Linked DNA regions of Homo sapiens. The protein of the gene in region 1 binds, or shares a complex with, the protein of each later gene. Each region holds a gene or a part of one and is shown on either strand. Other genes may lie near its edges.

Region 1 (3,556 bases):
ACACGTATGATTCCATCTATATGAAAAGTCTAGAATACACAAATCTATAGAGATAGAAAACAGATTAGGGTGGGGTGGACATGGGGATGGTAATAGCTGCAGAACTATATGAATATACTAAAATCATTTAATTGTATACTTTAAATGGACCTTAAATGGGTAAATAGGTAGATTTTATAGCAGGTGAATCATGTATTGTCATAAAGATGTTAATACATTAAAAGATGGTATTGACTAGTAATTGTAAAGAGAAAATTTAGAGGATACTGGCAGATATCTCTTACCTAAATAATCAAAGATAACATCCTCAATAAAACATTGGCATCGTGTATTTCCTGGATACCTCTGTAGTATGCTTACCAATTATGCCAAACCTCAGTCTTATTATTAGGAAATAATCAGACAAACCCAAATTGAAAGTCATTTTACAGAATACCTGACCAGTATTCAAAAGTGTCAGTCATGAAAGACAATGACAGAAACAGTCACAGATTGGCAAGAACTAAAGAGATGTAGGGTCCTGGAGCAGAAAAGGAACATTGATTAAGTCCTGGAACAGAAAAGGGACATTCAGTAGTGGAAAACTGGGTTGTTTGCTATTTTAGTAATACTAAGTTATCACTGAGGTTCATTTTACAGTTTTGCTAATTTTCTTATGGTTATATAAAATATTAGCATGGTGAAGTGGCAAATCTCCTATTTTTGTAGCTCTTCTTTACAACTATTTTAAAGTGAAAATTAGGGGAAAATGTTTTAATGTCATTGCTCGGATATGTTGCCAAGCAATGTAATGACATGCTGCCACTCTTTTTTTTTTTTTTTTTTTTTTTTTTTGAGACAGTCTCACTCTGTCACCCAGGCTGGAGTGCAGTGGCCGATCTCAGCTCACTGTAACCTCCGCCTCCTGGGTTCAAGCGATTCTCCTGCCTCAGCCTCCCGAGTAGCTGGGATTACAGGCATCTGCCACCACACCCAGCCAGTTTTTGTATTTTTTGTAGAGATGAGGTTTCACCATGGTAGCCAGGCTGGTCTCAAACTCCTGACCTCAGGTGATCCGCCTCAGCCTCCCAGAGTGCTGGGATGACAGGTGTGACCCACTCTGCCCAGCCTGGCTGCCACTCTTGAATGCCTGTTAAGTGCCAGGCAAAGTGCTAGGTGCTTTATATGCTTTACTACTAGTCTTCAAAGCGACCTTGCTTGATAGTTGGTATTGTTTGCATTTTTCAGGTGAGGAAATGGGAGTTGAGAATTACTAAGTAATTACCCAGATACAGTGATGAAATTGTGCCCTACCACATTGCCAAAATATATGGCCTATTGTAAAGCTAACTCTGGGCAGGAATTTACTTTGATCTAAAAGTCTGCAATATCCAAGAGGAAATTAGGCAGTTTGGCCTGAAAAGTGGCCTTTTGAGACAGAAAATGGAACAGTCTCTTTGAGGGGAGGTAGAAGTGTCTTTAAGGCTTGTGCAGTGAACTCTTAATTATTCATACAGTGTCCAAATGCTCATTCAGAGAGGATACCACATAGGAGACCTCTTTAAAGTGCAGACTTCCTAAGGTGACCATAATAGAGTTTTGCTAATACAGTTACTTGGTTATTATATAATAACTGATGTTCAGTTAATACAGTGCAAGATTCTGTTTTCAAAAAACGTTAATTTTGTATAGATGTTAAAAGATTGACAAATTCACATCTTCTGAAAATTGCAAATTTTTGTTAATCAAAATGTCTTTTTTTCTTTTTTGTACTTAGTCCTGCAGACAGTGTCCTGTGTTGCAGTCAGCTGAGATAAACAAGTTTTATTGATATTTAAGTGAGAATATAAAGATAGCATGTTCACTTATAAATATATTCCCTTTGCCTAGTGCTAACTACAGTATAGCCAAACCTACTGATTACTTTTCATCCTGTTTCTGTATTTTGTTGAGCCTTTCAGCTTAATTATGTATCTTTTTCCTAGGACTCCTTCTCCTCCCCCACGTCGGCGCTCACCTTCTCCTAGAAGATACTCTCCTCCAATACAGAGGAGATACTCTCCTTCTCCACCTCCAAAGAGAAGAACGGCTTCACCTCCTCCCCCTCCTAAACGAAGAGCATCACCATCTCCACCACCAAAGCGGCGGGTCTCCCATTCTCCACCTCCCAAACAAAGAAGCTCCCCAGTCACCAAGAGACGTTCACCTTCATTATCATCCAAGCATAGGAAAGGGTCTTCCCCAAGCCGCTCTACCCGGGAGGCCCGATCACCACAACCAAACAAACGGCATTCGCCCTCACCACGGCCTCGAGCTCCTCAGACCTCCTCAAGTCCTCCACCCGTTCGAAGAGGAGCGTCGTCATCACCCCAAAGAAGGCAGTCCCCGTCTCCAAGTACTAGGCCCATTAGGAGAGTCTCCAGGACTCCGGAACCTAAAAAGATAAAAAAGTAAAAATATTTTATGCTTTTCCATTAGGAATACTTACATAGCTGTTTATATTTGGAAGCTTCCCCCCACCCCCATATAAAAGGAATAAGTTATGAATATGAGCTTTTAAGTCAAACTTGAGGTACTATTTACAGATCTTATTCCATTTTTTGGGATAGTTTCTGTGGTATAAGTTAAATGCCACAGGCTTTTACTTGGTTCTTAGCAGTTATTAATTTGTTTTTGAGGGGTATGCTTCCAAAACTAAACTTGAGTAAGACATTGAACATTTCTTGTGTGTGATGTAAGGAACTGACATTACTAATCTTACATAAGAAGCATCATTAACAGAATAGATAGAGGATTATGGGGCTTTAGCCACCCTCTGGGAAACATAGGTAATGTAAATTGGATATATGTTAGTTGAATCAACCAGCAATCTAAGTGGTATATTTGAAATTCATAACCTGGTTGTACAGTGTAGTTGGTGGTTTTCTCATGTGAAGAGAGATGGCTGTTCTCAATGCTGAATGTTTTTTCCTTTTTGTCTAGGGCTGCTTCCCCAAGCCCACAGTCTGTAAGAAGGGTCTCATCCTCCCGATCTGTCTCCGGGTCTCCTGAGCCAGCAGCTAAAAAGCCCCCAGCACCTCCATCCCCCGTCCAGTCTCAGTCACCGTCTACAAACTGGTCACCAGCTGTACCGGTCAAAAAGGCCAAAAGCCCAACACCGAGCCCATCACCGCCAAGAGTATGTGTCTGCCTTATTTTGGACACCCTTTTATAAATATGTATATGGTCACTTTGAAGCAGAGAAAATGTCATTGGGGCATTAAAATATTGGTGTTTAAACTTTTTTTCCCATTTGTGAGTTATACATCTGATCTTGGGCAGGTTTCTGTATTGCATAAAATCAGTGGTTAGGTGTCCATCTGTTTTTTGTTTGTTTTTGAGACAGGGTCTCATGCTGTCACCCACGCTGAGTGCAGTGGGATGATCATAGCTCACAGCAGCCTTCCTGGACGCAGGTGATCCCTTCGCCTCAGCCTCCCAAGTAGCTGGGATTATAGGCACATGCTGCTACACCTGGCTGGTTTTTTGTTTTTAACTTTTTGTAGAGACAGGGTCTTGCTGTGTTGACCAGGCTGAT
Region 2 (3,816 bases), on another chromosome or scaffold:
AGGAGGATGTGGGCATCTTGCTGTGCTCCACAGAAATCGCTGTTTTGCCTTCTCAGAACATTTGTTGTTGGGCTGTTTTTAGGAGGGTGGCTGACTTTTTAGAGGTTTCTTTGTTAGCATCTACTATGATGATTCTGTCCTTTTTCTGGTCCTCCCGGGATTTGTGGATGTGGCCACTACAAGGCCAGAGTGGATGGGTGTCTCCGTGGCATTCTGGGGTGAACCCTGGCCTGTCGTGGCTTCGCCGTGGCCTTCTGCCAGCTCACTGTCACACGTGGTCTCGGTTGTGTGGACTGGCTCCAGCAGGTTTTGCTGTGACAGGTGTGGCCCCTGCATGTTACGAGCAGGGCTGGCTGTGGCTTTGTGGCCTGGAATGGTTAAAATCACAGGGATGGCCAGGCGTGGTGGCTCACACCTGTAATCCCAGCACTTTGGGAGGCTGAGGTAGGTGGATTGCCTGAGCCCAGGAATTCGAGAGCAGCCTGGGCAACATGGCAAAACCCGATCTCTACAAAAAATAAAAAAAATTAGCGGGGCATGGTGGCGTGCGCCTGTAGTCCCAGCTGCTTGGGAGGGTGAGGTGGGGGGATAATCTGAGCCTGGGAAGTCAAAGCTGCAGTGAGCTAGGATCGCGCCACTGCACTCTATCCTGGGCAGCAGTGAGACCCTGTCTGGAAAAAAAAAAAAAAATCAAACGAGTCAGCTGTGCTTAACAGCTGGGCAAAGGCAGCTGGCAGCTATTCGTGCCACTTCCTTGGGGCTTTCATTTCAGGGTTAACGGGCACTTGTTTCCATGAAGGCTGGTATTCTCTTGGCCTCGCTGTGCTGACCTTTTTTTCTCATGCCTAATCACACTTTCCATTCCTCAGTCCCTTAGTGGTCTTTGAAGGGTTTGTCTGTTTTCACTTCACTTTGAAGGGTTTGTAATTGTTTTCAGTTTCTGTCTTTGCTTCTTCATGGTGCTTTTCCTCCTTCCTCACTTTAATCCATGTGTGTTTCTGATAGCCACGTCTGTCATTTTGAGGGTGCATGTTCCCTCTTCACTGCTTGCTGGTTGTTGGTAGCTTCCCTTTCAATTTCTTCTCAGCCAAGGATTGCCTAGGACTGTTGGTTATTTTCAAGTAGGTTGGGTGCGTGGTTTGTTTTTGTTGTTTGGCAGGGGCCAGGGCAGGGAATCATTTTATTATTTTTTATTTCTCTTTGGCTTAACCAGCCTGTGAAACTGCTGACAGATCAGTTGCCACCTTCTCTTTTTTTTTTTTTTTTTTTTTTTTGAGATGGAGTTTCACTCTTGTCACCCAGGCCGGAGTGCAATGGCGGGATCTCGGCTCACTGCAACCTCTGCCTCCTGGGTTCAAGCGGTTCTCCTGGGATTACAGACGCCCACCACCACACCAGGATAATTTTTTGTACTTTAGTAGAGACAGGGTTTCACCATGTTGGCCAGGCTGGTCTCCAACTCCTGACCTCAGGTGATCCACCCACCTCAGCCTCCCAAAGTGCCGAGATTACAGGCATGAGCCACCACACTCGGCCTTCTTTTCTTATTTCTAGTAGTATTTTGTGCTTTCTTGGACAACTGTTGCCAAAGGTTTGCCTATTTTACCGTATTCAAAGATCATTAGACTTTAATTTGTTACAGCTTTGTTTTCCCTTTTGTGATTCTTGTAATTAAAGATTTTCCAGGAGGAGGCCAGGCGCGGTGGCTCATGCCTATAATCCCAGCACTTTGGGAGGCCGAGGCAGGCGGATCACGAGGTCAGGAGATCGAGACCATCCTCGCTAACACGGTGAAACCCCATCTCTACTAAAAATACAGAAAACTAGCCGGGCATGGTGGCAGGCGCCTGTAGTCCCAGCTACTCAGGAGGCTGAGGCAGGAGAATGGCGTGAACCCAGGAGGCAGAGCTTGCATTGAGCCGAGATCGCGCCACTGCACTCCAGCCCTCCAGCCTGGGTGACAGAGCGAGACTCCGTCTCCAAAAAAAAAAAAAGATTTTCTAGGAGGAGCTTGCCTCAGGATGGTTCTTTTACTTTCCTCTTATCTGAGTTTAATTCTGCTTCTAGTTTCCTTCACTGTGTTAGAAATCAGCAAGAGAGGGAACTGCTTGCAGGTCAGAGCTCAGGTCTGCACCGTTGCAGATGTCACATCTGCGGACACTTGTCTGGTGGCCTCGGGTGTGGTCAGACTTGGTGGGCTCAGGAGCGTGTCCCTGCGTGGCTGGGGGGTGCATGTTTGATGCAGTGGAGGTTAAGTCCTGTGTCTCACCAGCCGGGTTGTGGGCTGTGCCTGCCTGCACCACCCTGGGGAGTGCTCCGTGCCGCCAGCGCCGGGACCCACCCCATGTCTTCCATCGTTTTCTTTTCAGCCTCTCTGGCTCTGCCCTCTGAGGGCTTTTTGAAGGCTCACAGCTGGGGTCTGTCGTGTTCTCCTTCATCCTGACAGTCTTTTTTTTTTTTTTCTTTGAGACGGAGTCTCGCTCCGTCCCCCAGGCTGGAGTGCAGCGGCGCGATCTCGGCTCACTGCAAGCTCCGCCTCCCAGGTTCATGCCATTCTCCTGCCTCAGCCTCCCTAGTAGCTGGGACTACAGGCGCCCGCCACACGCCTGGCTAATTTTTTGTATTTTTAGTAGAGATGGGGTTTCACCGTGTTAGCGAGGATGGTCTCGATCTCCTGACCTTGTGATCCGCCCACCTTGGCCTCCCAAAGTGCTGGGATTACAGGCGTGAGCCACTGTGCCTGGCCAATCCTGACAATCTTAAATGTGGACTTAATTCTTCAGGTGGTCTGTTGCGTTCTATGATCTTGTTGCTTTCTAGTTACCATTTTTTATATTTATTTTCATTTGCTTCTCTTCTCTTTCTGCTGGTTTGGAAATTAGATGTTTTACTTCTGGTCTAAGGTTAAGAAGGACATCTATTTAAAGTCCAAAGTTGGCCAGGTGCAGTGGCTCACGCCTGTAATCCCAGCACTTTGGGAGGCCAAGGCAGGTGGATCACAAGGTCAAGAGATTGAGACCATCCTGGCTAACACAGTGAAACCCCGTCTCTACTAAAAATGCAAAAAAATTAGCTGGGCGTGATGGCGGGCGCCTGTAGTCCCAGCTACTCAGGAGGCTGAGGCAGGACTATGACATGAACCTGGGAGGCGGAGCTTGCAGTGAACCGACATCGCGCCACTGCACTCCAGCCTGGGGGACAGAGCAAGATTCCATCTCAAAAAAAAAAAAAAAAGTCCAAAGTTATGAGGTAGTCTCTGCCTTCCTCCCAGACCAGGCTGGCAGAAACTCTCTCCTCGTCTCATGGCAGTGCTGTTGGCTGTTTTAATTCCACCCCATTTCCTTTTTTCTTTTTCTTTTTTCTTGAGACAGACTCTGTCGCCCAGGCTGGAGTGCAGTGGTGTGATCTCAGCTTACTGCAACCTCTGCCTCCCAGGTTAAAGCGATTCTCCTGCCTTGGCCTCCTAAGTAGTTGGGACTACAGGCACACGCCACCACGCCCAGCTAATTTTTGTATTTTTAATAGGGACAGGGTTTTACCATGTTGGCCAGGCTGGTCTCCAACTCCTGGCCTCAAGTGATCTACCTGCCTTGGCCTCCCAAAGTGCTGGGATTACAGGCGTGAGCCACTGTGCCTGGACGACCTGAGCATTTTCTTAGTCCATGTTTATTTATGTTACCCACGTTTCTTAATCCCTTGACTCCTGTTCTGGCTTTGTTGCCTCCTTTCTCCTCAGTCCTTCAACAGGTCCCTTGATGACATGGGGCTGGCTCTGGTTTTCCAGGTGTCCCCTCGTCCCAGCCACCTCCCACAGAG

Evidence for each region.
Region 2: SRRM1 (region 1) and PPIL2 share a complex: the UniProt entries of both Homo sapiens proteins name them as parts of the minor spliceosome.

The regions. Positions count from the first base shown.
Region 1 is NC_000001.11:24,667,159-24,670,714, forward strand, and holds part of SRRM1 (serine/arginine repetitive matrix protein 1), read left to right. Parts: intron 1-1,964; coding exon 1,965-2,429; intron 2,430-2,961; coding exon 2,962-3,157; intron 3,158-3,556. UniProt on the Homo sapiens protein: Part of pre- and post-splicing multiprotein mRNP complexes. As a component of the minor spliceosome, involved in the splicing of U12-type introns in pre-mRNAs. Involved in numerous pre-mRNA processing events.
Region 2 is NC_000022.11:21,689,708-21,693,523, forward strand, and holds part of PPIL2 (RING-type E3 ubiquitin-protein ligase PPIL2), read left to right. Parts: intron 1-1,677; coding exon of another isoform or gene 1,678-1,786; exon of another isoform or gene 1,787-2,471; intron 2,472-3,816. UniProt on the Homo sapiens protein: Has a ubiquitin-protein ligase activity acting as an E3 ubiquitin protein ligase or as an ubiquitin-ubiquitin ligase promoting elongation of ubiquitin chains on substrates.